Linked DNA regions of Homo sapiens: region 1 is reported to be linked to region 2. Evidence: microRNA targets listed by miRTarBase, many of them from high-throughput screens and not tested one by one. Region 2 holds a microRNA gene; the other region holds the end of a gene's coding sequence.
The links. The annotated mature microRNA hsa-miR-4288 reads UUGUCUGCUGAGUUUCC and lies in region 2 at 1,429-1,445, opposite strand. An mRNA with a match to its seed (bases 2 to 7 or 8) in the 3' UTR can be bound and repressed. Matches are read on the target gene's strand: a 7mer-m8 pairs with bases 2 to 8, a 7mer-A1 pairs with bases 2 to 7 and ends in A, and an 8mer does both.

Region 1 (4,401 bases), not on the chromosome of region 2:
TTCAAGCGATTCTCCTGCCTCAGTCTCCCAGGTAGTTGGGATTACAGGGGCCCACCACCATAGCCAGCTAATTTTTGTATTTTCAATGGAAATGGGGTTTCACCATGTTGGCCAGGCTGGTCTCGAAGTCCTGACCTCAGGTGATCTGCCCGCCTTGGCCTCCCAGAGTGCTGGGATTACAGCGAGTATTTTTCACTCCCTTCTCCACATATTCGGTATCTAATTTCATTGCGAAATAAAAAGTGCCCCTCCAAACAACTCAAAAGCTCATCCCTAAGTTTCTAGATATTCGTTCCAACAAACTCCTGGGGGAACCACCCTCATGGATTTGGGGAAGGGCTTTTTACTCACTTGCTGCCATGTCAGCTTCAGCCTTTCATACTGCTCCTTGCCATCTGCTGAGCAATCCGAACAAGTAAACCTAAAAAAATTATCACCCTTAAGGTAACTGAGCTGTTCCCTCAGCTGACCTAGGAGAAAAACAAAAAGTCACATCATGGGTTTATCTAGAGCAGCGGTAACCTAAAGGTTTAATCCGTTTATCACCCAGATTTTCCTTTCCCATGTTGTCTTCTTTTCTTCAGCCAACCCACAATTGCAAAATGGGGAAAAGGAAGGGAATTAGAAAGATTTCTATTCTTCTAACACCAAGTATACGCCCACTAAGATCTGTAGGATCCAGTAACTTTTAGGAGAAAGGTACTGGAAAAGCAGGTATTGTTGCTGGATTTCCCAATTGTCACATTCCTGACTCCCAGAGGCAGGTCTCTTCACACATTCTTTCAAAAAATATGAGCTCCCTCTGCATACCAGGCACTGGGCTAGGAACTGGGAATACAAAGTCCAAGACAGATAATGGTGCCTGATCTCACAGGTTTGCACTTCCCTGAGGGCTGCATAGAAAACAGGTGATCACAACAACACAGTGGTTCTCCATGCTCACAGTGCATTGGAATCACCCAAGTTGTTCTTGGTTTTCTAAATATGCTTGATTCTAGCCCAGATAAAATGCATCAATTTCTGAAGCAGAGCCTAGGAGTTACATTTCTTAGTCCCTCAGGTGATGCTGATGCTCTGTGACACATAAGGAATGGAATGTGCTGTGTACCACAGGGCAGTGTGAGGGTAAATAAAAGGAGGCCCAACCTATATTAGGGGGAGGCTTAGGATTAGAAATTGGCCAGGTGAAAAGGGGTCTCTTTGTGTATAGGGAGAATGGAGGCTGTGGAGATGCATATTCCAGAAGAAAAAAACTGTGCAAAGCCCTAAGGATAAGAATTGTTTGTGAAGAATAAGTTCACCCTAACTGCAAAGTTGTGTGGGAATCAAAGAAACTACAGTTAGCAGGGTCCTGACCACAAAGGGTAGCTTAAAATTTGTCCTCAACAGGACAAAGGGAAAGCCACTGAGAATTCAGGCAGAACCTGAAATCAATAACAGAGACCGCTCAGAAGCAAAAACCAGCTAACTAGTAAATTCTGCATTTCCTGTGAAAATGTTACTATTAATTTGTTAACAGTGACTAAATTTGAAGTTGAACCCATTTTAAGAAAAACATTTCCACATGCCAGAAAATGACCCTCTTCACAGTTATATATGTATTTCTCTGACTTGGTTACAAATTATATTACACAAAGGCATTCCTCAAGTACCTATATCTTTACTAGTCTCTTGCCTAATGGGAAAATCCTGTTTCGGTATAAACCATATGATGGCTGGCAAGCCATACTCCTCAGGTGCCAGGAAGCTGGCCATTGAAAATCTCAAGATCAGGGCCGAGCACAGTAGCACATGCCTGTAATCCCAGCACTTTGGGAGGCCGAGGCGGATGGATCACCTGAGGTTGGGAGTTTGAGACCAGCCTGACCAACATGGAGAAGAAACCTCATCTCTACTAAAAATACAAAATTGGCCGGGCATGGTGGCGCATGCCTGTAATCCCAGCTACTCGGGAGGCCGAGGCAGGAGAATCACTTGAACCTGGGAGACGGAGGTTGCAGTGAGCCAAGATCATGCCATTGCACTCCAGCCTGGGCAATAAGAGGAAAACTCCGTCTCAAAAAAAAAAAATAAAATAAAAAAAAAAATTAGCCAGGTGTGCTGGCAAACACTATAATCCCAGCTACTTGGGAGGCTGAGGCAGGAGAATCGCTTGAACCCAGGAGCCGAGATCATGCCATTGCACTCTAGCCTGGGCAACAAAAGCAAAACTCCATCTCAAAAAAAAAAAAGAAAGAAAAGAAAATCTCAAGATTGAGGCAATCAGGGAGTGTGTATGAGGTATCTCTTGCCAGCAGAAAAAAAGGAAAATGGAAAAAAAGACTGGTCCTAGAAAAAGGGCAAAAAACACCTTCAATCTGCTAATTCTAACCTCTTTTCAGTATACAATAGCAGGAGTTCTCCACGTAAGTTAAATATTAACAAAGTAATTTTTATAAACTTGAACATGAATTCAACACTGGGACTGGAATTTGGCCCTAAATCTCTGTGACCTTGTTAGAAAAATATGGCTAATTCTTTAAGTAACACAGGATTTCCAATTTTCTCAATTTTATTGAGTTACCACCAAAAGTGTTAATTTAACAATGTGATAGAGGTTGACAGTACGTTTCATTAGTACAAACATGCCTATGTTTTATATAAATTTATAGCTGATCAACTAGAGAATAAATATAATTATCCTTTTATTTAGGTCTCTTTTACATTCACGTTTCTTTCACAGGTTGGAAAAACAAACCTTCACACAGGAATTGACAAATCAAAGGAATTGAGAAGCTCCTTACTGGCTGGTATCCATTTTTGGCACTTGTCACAGAAGTAGGACAGCTGCTCCTCCATCCAAGACACGTCTCCTTCATCACTGTTGAGGGAATCCCCACTCTGGTCGTGCGATAAGTCCACTGATGCCTGATCCTCGGATTCGACGATCAGGAGCGTCTCTCCCTCCACTTCACCTTCCTCCAGTCCTTCTGAGGTCGATGTTCTCGTGGCTTCGTCATCATGCCGACTGATCAGACTACTCAGGTGGATGCTACTATCCATCCCTTCCTTCTCACAAGCTCGGCAGTGCTTCTCAGTAACAACCCTAAGCACTGGACAGTGACCCTAATGGGGCTTCTACCAGGATCACCCAGACAGACTCTTCCAAAAAGTGTCTGCCCACACTCCTTTATTCAGATATAAGGGACCCTGAAAGCAGTAACTTATATGACCCACTGTCCTTTATTTGATCAAGTTTAAAAGGACAGTGACCAAAAAAAAAGATGAAGATACTACTAAGCTACTCTCCATCAACACACACACACAAACTCGTGTTGTCTGTCCAACAGATATTTCACATTCAAGTCATGATTTTTGAGATCCTTTTGCCAATAACATCTTCTCTCTTTCTGCTTCAAGTTGCTCAGTCAAAATAATCTGTTCTCCCAAAAGACGAATGTTTTCTTTTTTCCGAATTTGCCTCTCAATGTCTCTGATAACTCCGTCACGAAGCCTCTAAAAACGTAAGAAACAGATTTCAGTAACATCCCGAACAGGTGGTCCCCATCCTTGTGCCATTCAAATCCAAATAACAGTGTTACCAAAATATACTTAAAACTTTCAGATTCCAAATACCCAGTTACTATTTTAATTTTCTGTACAAATGTAAAATGTAATAAACGATCAAATAAATTTGGTAGTGTGCTAAATGTTATTACTGAAATGATTTCTTATCATATTTTAAGAAATTCCTGAACATTTAGTACAGAAAATTTAATGGGAAATAACAGAAAAAAAAAACTGGCACTATGTTAAATTTTTTTTTATTTATTTTTTGAGACAAGAGTCTCGCTCTGTCGCCCAGGCTGGAGTGCAGTGGCTGCACTCCGCAGCTCACCGCAACCTCCACCTCCTGGGTTCAAGTGATTCTCCGGCCTCAGCCTCCCGAGTAGCTGAGACTACAGGCGTGCATCACCATGCCCAGCTAATTTTTGTATTTTTAGTAGAGACGGGGTTTCACCACGTCAGCCAAGCTGGTCTCGAACTCCTGATCTCAAGTAATCCACCTGCCTCAGCCTCCCAAAGTGCCGGATTACAGGCGTGAGCCACTGCACCCGGCCAATGTTAAATTTTTAAAGTTTAATTGATATGTAATGCTTTAAAAACTTGGCGAGTTACTACAGTAACACTCTAAACTACTCTTCTGTTAGCACTTATCCTAGCTGAACAATAAACACCAACAGAAAAAATGCAGATTACTAAAATCTCAACTTGGCTTCTAGCATGTAAAGTTAACAATGTAAAAATCATGCAGAATTATTAATTAATTATATAACAGAGAAAGAAGAAAAAGAAGGATGCTACTACCAGCGGAAAAAATAAATGCTCATCAATGGTAGTTACCTTAGTAAGCACTAAAAA
Region 2 (4,401 bases):
ATCTGTCTATAATGGTTTTAGAATTGAGGACAGGGATATATATACCAGATAAGAACTAGCAGGCAGTAAGCAGTGGTGGTAATGACCATAGGCTTTGAGGTAGACAAACCTGGGTTTGAATTCTACCTCTACCACTTTCTAGCTGTATACTTTGGCCACGTTATATGAACTTTCTCACCATAGTTTCTTTGCTTGTAACTTAGAGACTTCAGTAAGGTACAAAGTGAAAATCCATGTATAGTACTTGGCGCATAGTAAGTACTCTATAAGTGATAGCTTTTACCGTTAATTCATATTCTCATATTAACGTGGTTACATAACATAATTTAGAGGGAATGTTTGATACATTACTCTTCAGCCTATTTCCATAGCGCTTTCAGCAAATGGAAGCCTACATGTTTTGGAATTCTTCATTTTATAATAAAACCGAAAAGTTCATCATTTTAAGGGAGACTAACCTAAGTCTAAGAAAATTTGTAAGATTATTATTCATAGATTTTGAAATAAGGAGGGCATCTTATATATTCCAAATATTTGAAAATGCTGTAGAGGTTGAACAAAACATTTTTTGCTTTTCCTCTGAGTACACGAGGTCTAAGTGGTTGAAGAGAGAGAATTGGTATAGGCTATCAGATTAGGATATATAAAAATGGGTATTGGTTTAATACAGTAAGTTGGTTCCAGGCATGGTAGTCTTTGCTATGTATTAAAGCTATCAATTTCTCACAGAAAATTGAACTAGAAACATTTTTATTTCTGGTATCATTTTAAATCATAACTCCTTTGGGAAGCAAATAGGTTAATAAGAAGCAGGTCATAAAGATGTTTGTCCTGACTTGGGTTCAACTTTTGGCTCTGCCATGTAGTAGGTTTAAGACTTTGGACAGGTTACTTAACACTCCTGATCTTTGTTTTCTTCATTTGTGAAAAGGCAGTATAATGATACACCTTGAAGGGCTGTTAGGATTAAATAAGAGATTTATGAAGTAGCTAGCACAATGCATCATACGCAATAGGTGATTCACAAATATTAATTCTACTCCAAATTCCATTTCTAAATCATCTAAAGGGAAGTACTAGAAACACCATGTATTTGCTCCAGTGAATTTGCATCCCTCATTGTAGGTTCATGGGGCATTCATTCATAGTGATAGCATGATAGGCTCTCTCTGACTTCTCAAATATGCACAAGTAGTCTAGATATTTCAGTGACAATGGGGTTGCCTCTGTTTGAATTTCAGACACTGACATTCTGGGGAGAGCACCTAAGTGAGTAATAGTTTCTAAGAGAAGGCTCTAATGACTTGAAGTAATGTTGGGAATAGTTGCATATTGCATGTTTATCGTATCAGGACAGTGATGCCACTGACAGAAAGAATAATCAAACACAGTTTGAGAGTGTAACGTTTCTTTAATAGCAAATGACGTGGAAACTCAGCAGACAACACTGCCTGCTCAGTGCTGCTGATGACTCTCCACCTCCATCCCTCTACTGATCCAGGAACCAGCTTAGCAGGCACAAGTAATTGGAGCAAACCCAGCACACTCTTGAGTGTTTGCTGTGAGACTGAATGAATTCAAAGACAGTTTCCTAGGTGTAGCATCTTTCAGCAGGCCCCAGGCTTTAAGCCTGCCTAGAGTCCATTCCTTTTTTCTTTTTTTATTTTTTTTTGAGACATGGTCTCACTCTGTGGCCCACACTGGAGTGCTGTTGTGCAATCATGGCTCACCACAGCCTCAACCTCCCAGGCTCAGGTGATCCTCTGCCTCAGCCTCCCAAGTAGCTGGGACTACAGGTGTGTGCCGCCACCCCTGGCTAATTTTTTTGTATTTTTTTAGAGACAAGGTTTTGCCATGTTGCCCAGGCTGATCTCGAACTCCTGGGCTGAAGCGATCCACCCACTTGGGCCTCCCAAAGTGCTGGATTATAGGCATGAGCCACCGCGCCTGGCTGGAGTCCATTCCTTTACTGTTTTGTGAGTTAAAAGGAGTGCCTGGAACACAATGGTATGTGGGCAGTAAGCTAGATTAGCCACAAATAGGAGAAAGAGCAGAATCTGGGTTATTTTAAGTTTTATTCACAATCAACAAGTTGGATCTTCTTACATTGTGTCTACAGGGTACATACTCTGTACTTTTATTGAGATTGGGACATGTTTAAATAGATAAGTGTCAATCCATTAAGTTAGAAAAGAAGGTTCTTGCTAATATGTTTATTTCTTTATCTCTGCCTTCCAAAACGTGCACATCAATATGCAAACACACATGCTACGTTTTTCTAAGTTGTTAACTTGACGTTCTCTTTTCCCCTGTGTATGAGTAGCTTTTGATAGGAAAAAAATGCTCACTTCTGAGCCTTCCAAACCATTTTGAGCTGTCCAAATTGCTAAGTAAATTTTTGGGAACTGTTCAGCATGGAGCAATAATCAACAAATGTCAGTAGCAATCTTTACTGAGCCACCTATTATCAGGTATTTACGACTCTAGTGGTAATAAAAGAGATCTGGGCAGGCTTTTCCTCATACTGAATAATTGAACCAAATTGGCTAGGACGGGAACAGATTAGTGGAAGAAGCACTAGAATAGGGATAGGAGACTTGTATTCTGTCACTAACTAGGTTTGAGACCTCTTTGTGTTGATTTCCAATAGGAAGTAAATTTTTTTCCTGCCATTTTATAGGGTTATTGTTAAGATCAAGTGAGATAAGTGGCATTTATGTTAAAGAATTTTGAAAAGTTAAAGTGCTGTGTGAATACAGAGCATTCTTCTTTGTTGCCTGTCACCCTGTTTTTTCATTTCAGTTAGTGTGTGGAACGAGCAATCTTTAATCTCTTTGGGAGGTTGATTGCTTGCCCCTCCCCACCCCATATATAGAGGAAAGTAGGCCTCTCTATAGGATAATCAGAGGAAAAACTCCTGGAATGGTTTGTGTTTGCCTCCGTTTCCTGTTTTCCTTTGTCATTCTCATTAAAGATTTTTTTATGATTTAAGGTTTTCTTATAATGGGAGCATGGAAAGCTGGCAGTGAAATAATCCTAGTAGGAACACAGAGCCTAAAAGCCTGAACATCCTGTATCTTTTATGGTTCATTAAGAACAGAGTATGTTTCAACCAGTCTCTCAGTTATCCAAACTCAAATTTGAGCTTTTTACTAAAAAACTTTATTATGGAAATTTCCATTATATACAAATAGAATAATATAATGAAGTGCCATGTATCCAGCATCCAGCCTTAAACATTACCAACTCATAGCTAGTCTTGTTTCATTATCACTGCATGCCCTTCTGGGTCACCTTGAAACAAATTTCGTATATCAAAATTTCATCCATAAATATTTTGTTATATACCTCCGAAAAGTAAGGTATCTTTCAAAATATATGAACACAATACCTTTATTCCTTTATCAGTGTCAAGTATCAAATTAATGTTCAAATTACTCTTGCATATTTCACAATTTTTTTTCATACTGGCTTTTTCTAATCAGGGTTCATACATTGCATCCAATTGATATGTCTCTTAAGTCTGTTTTAATTTATAGGTTTTCCTTTCCTGTTCCCCTTTTTTCTTGTGATATATTTATCTTATAGAGTTTCCCATAGTCTTTATTTTGCTGATTGCATCCCTGTGGTGTTGTTTACCGTGTCTCTGTCTCATTTATTTTTGTAAACAGGCACTGTAGAGGCTTGATTAGACACGAGTTTGGTTTTTTATTGTTGTTTTGGAAGGAATACTTCATAGGTAGCTAACATACTCCTGCCAGGAGCACATAATATTAAGTTGTTACTCTTTTTATAAATGTTAGCAGCCATTGATGATTTCCTAGACCAATAGTTTTGTTAGGGGTTTGCAAAATGGTGATACTCTAATTCTGTCACCCTTTCTTCATTTCTTAGCTGGAATATTTGGAAACTTCTCATTGACTATTGGATTACTTTCATATACAGTTTATATAAGAAAGATAGGATAAGTGCTTGCATGTTCCCCCGTTATTAGTTTTTAGAATAATTAGTTGATTCCCAAGCATCCATCAAAGGTGACCAGTGAGGGTTTTTGTTTTTTTTTTGGTTTAAGTTTCATTGTGAACTCAAGGATTTTTTTTTTTTTTAACATATTTGATGTTTTAAATCTATCACAGTGATTATTGAGGCTCAAAATATTCCATCTTTGGTAGTGGGAGCCTCTACATGGTAGCTCCTGAGTGTTTTGTTTTTGACACAAGGTCTTGCTCTGTCACCCAGGCTGGAGTGCAGTGGAGCAATCATAGCTCACTGTAGCCTGAAGCTCCTAAGCTCAAACAATCCCCCTACCTCAGCCTCCAAAGTAGGTTCTACAGGTACATGCCATCATGCCTGGCTAATTTTAAAGAACTTTTTTTTTGTAGAGGCAAGATCTCACTATGT

Region 1: miRTarBase lists PET117 as a target of hsa-miR-4288. Seed matches in the 3' UTR shown: 7mer-A1 at 3,315-3,321 and 7mer-m8 at 3,153-3,159.

Annotation. Positions count from the first base shown.
Region 1 is chr20:18,141,302-18,145,702 of GRCh38, reverse strand. It overlaps PET117 (PET117 cytochrome c oxidase chaperone), which reads right to left. Exons shown (of 2, transcript NM_001164811.2): 2 at 2,534-3,495. The coding sequence ends at 3,346. It overlaps KAT14 (lysine acetyltransferase 14), which reads right to left. Exons shown (of 11, transcript NM_001392073.1): 2 at 2,784-3,495; 3 at 352-470. The coding sequence starts at 3,042. Among named protein-coding and RNA genes, the nearest start is that of PET117, 5.6 kb to the right of the region's middle.
Region 2 is chr8:28,503,698-28,508,098 of GRCh38, forward strand. It overlaps MIR4288 (microRNA 4288), which reads right to left and starts at 1,485; the gene lies at 1,419-1,485. The region is part of intron 3 of FZD3 (frizzled class receptor 3); the gene reads left to right.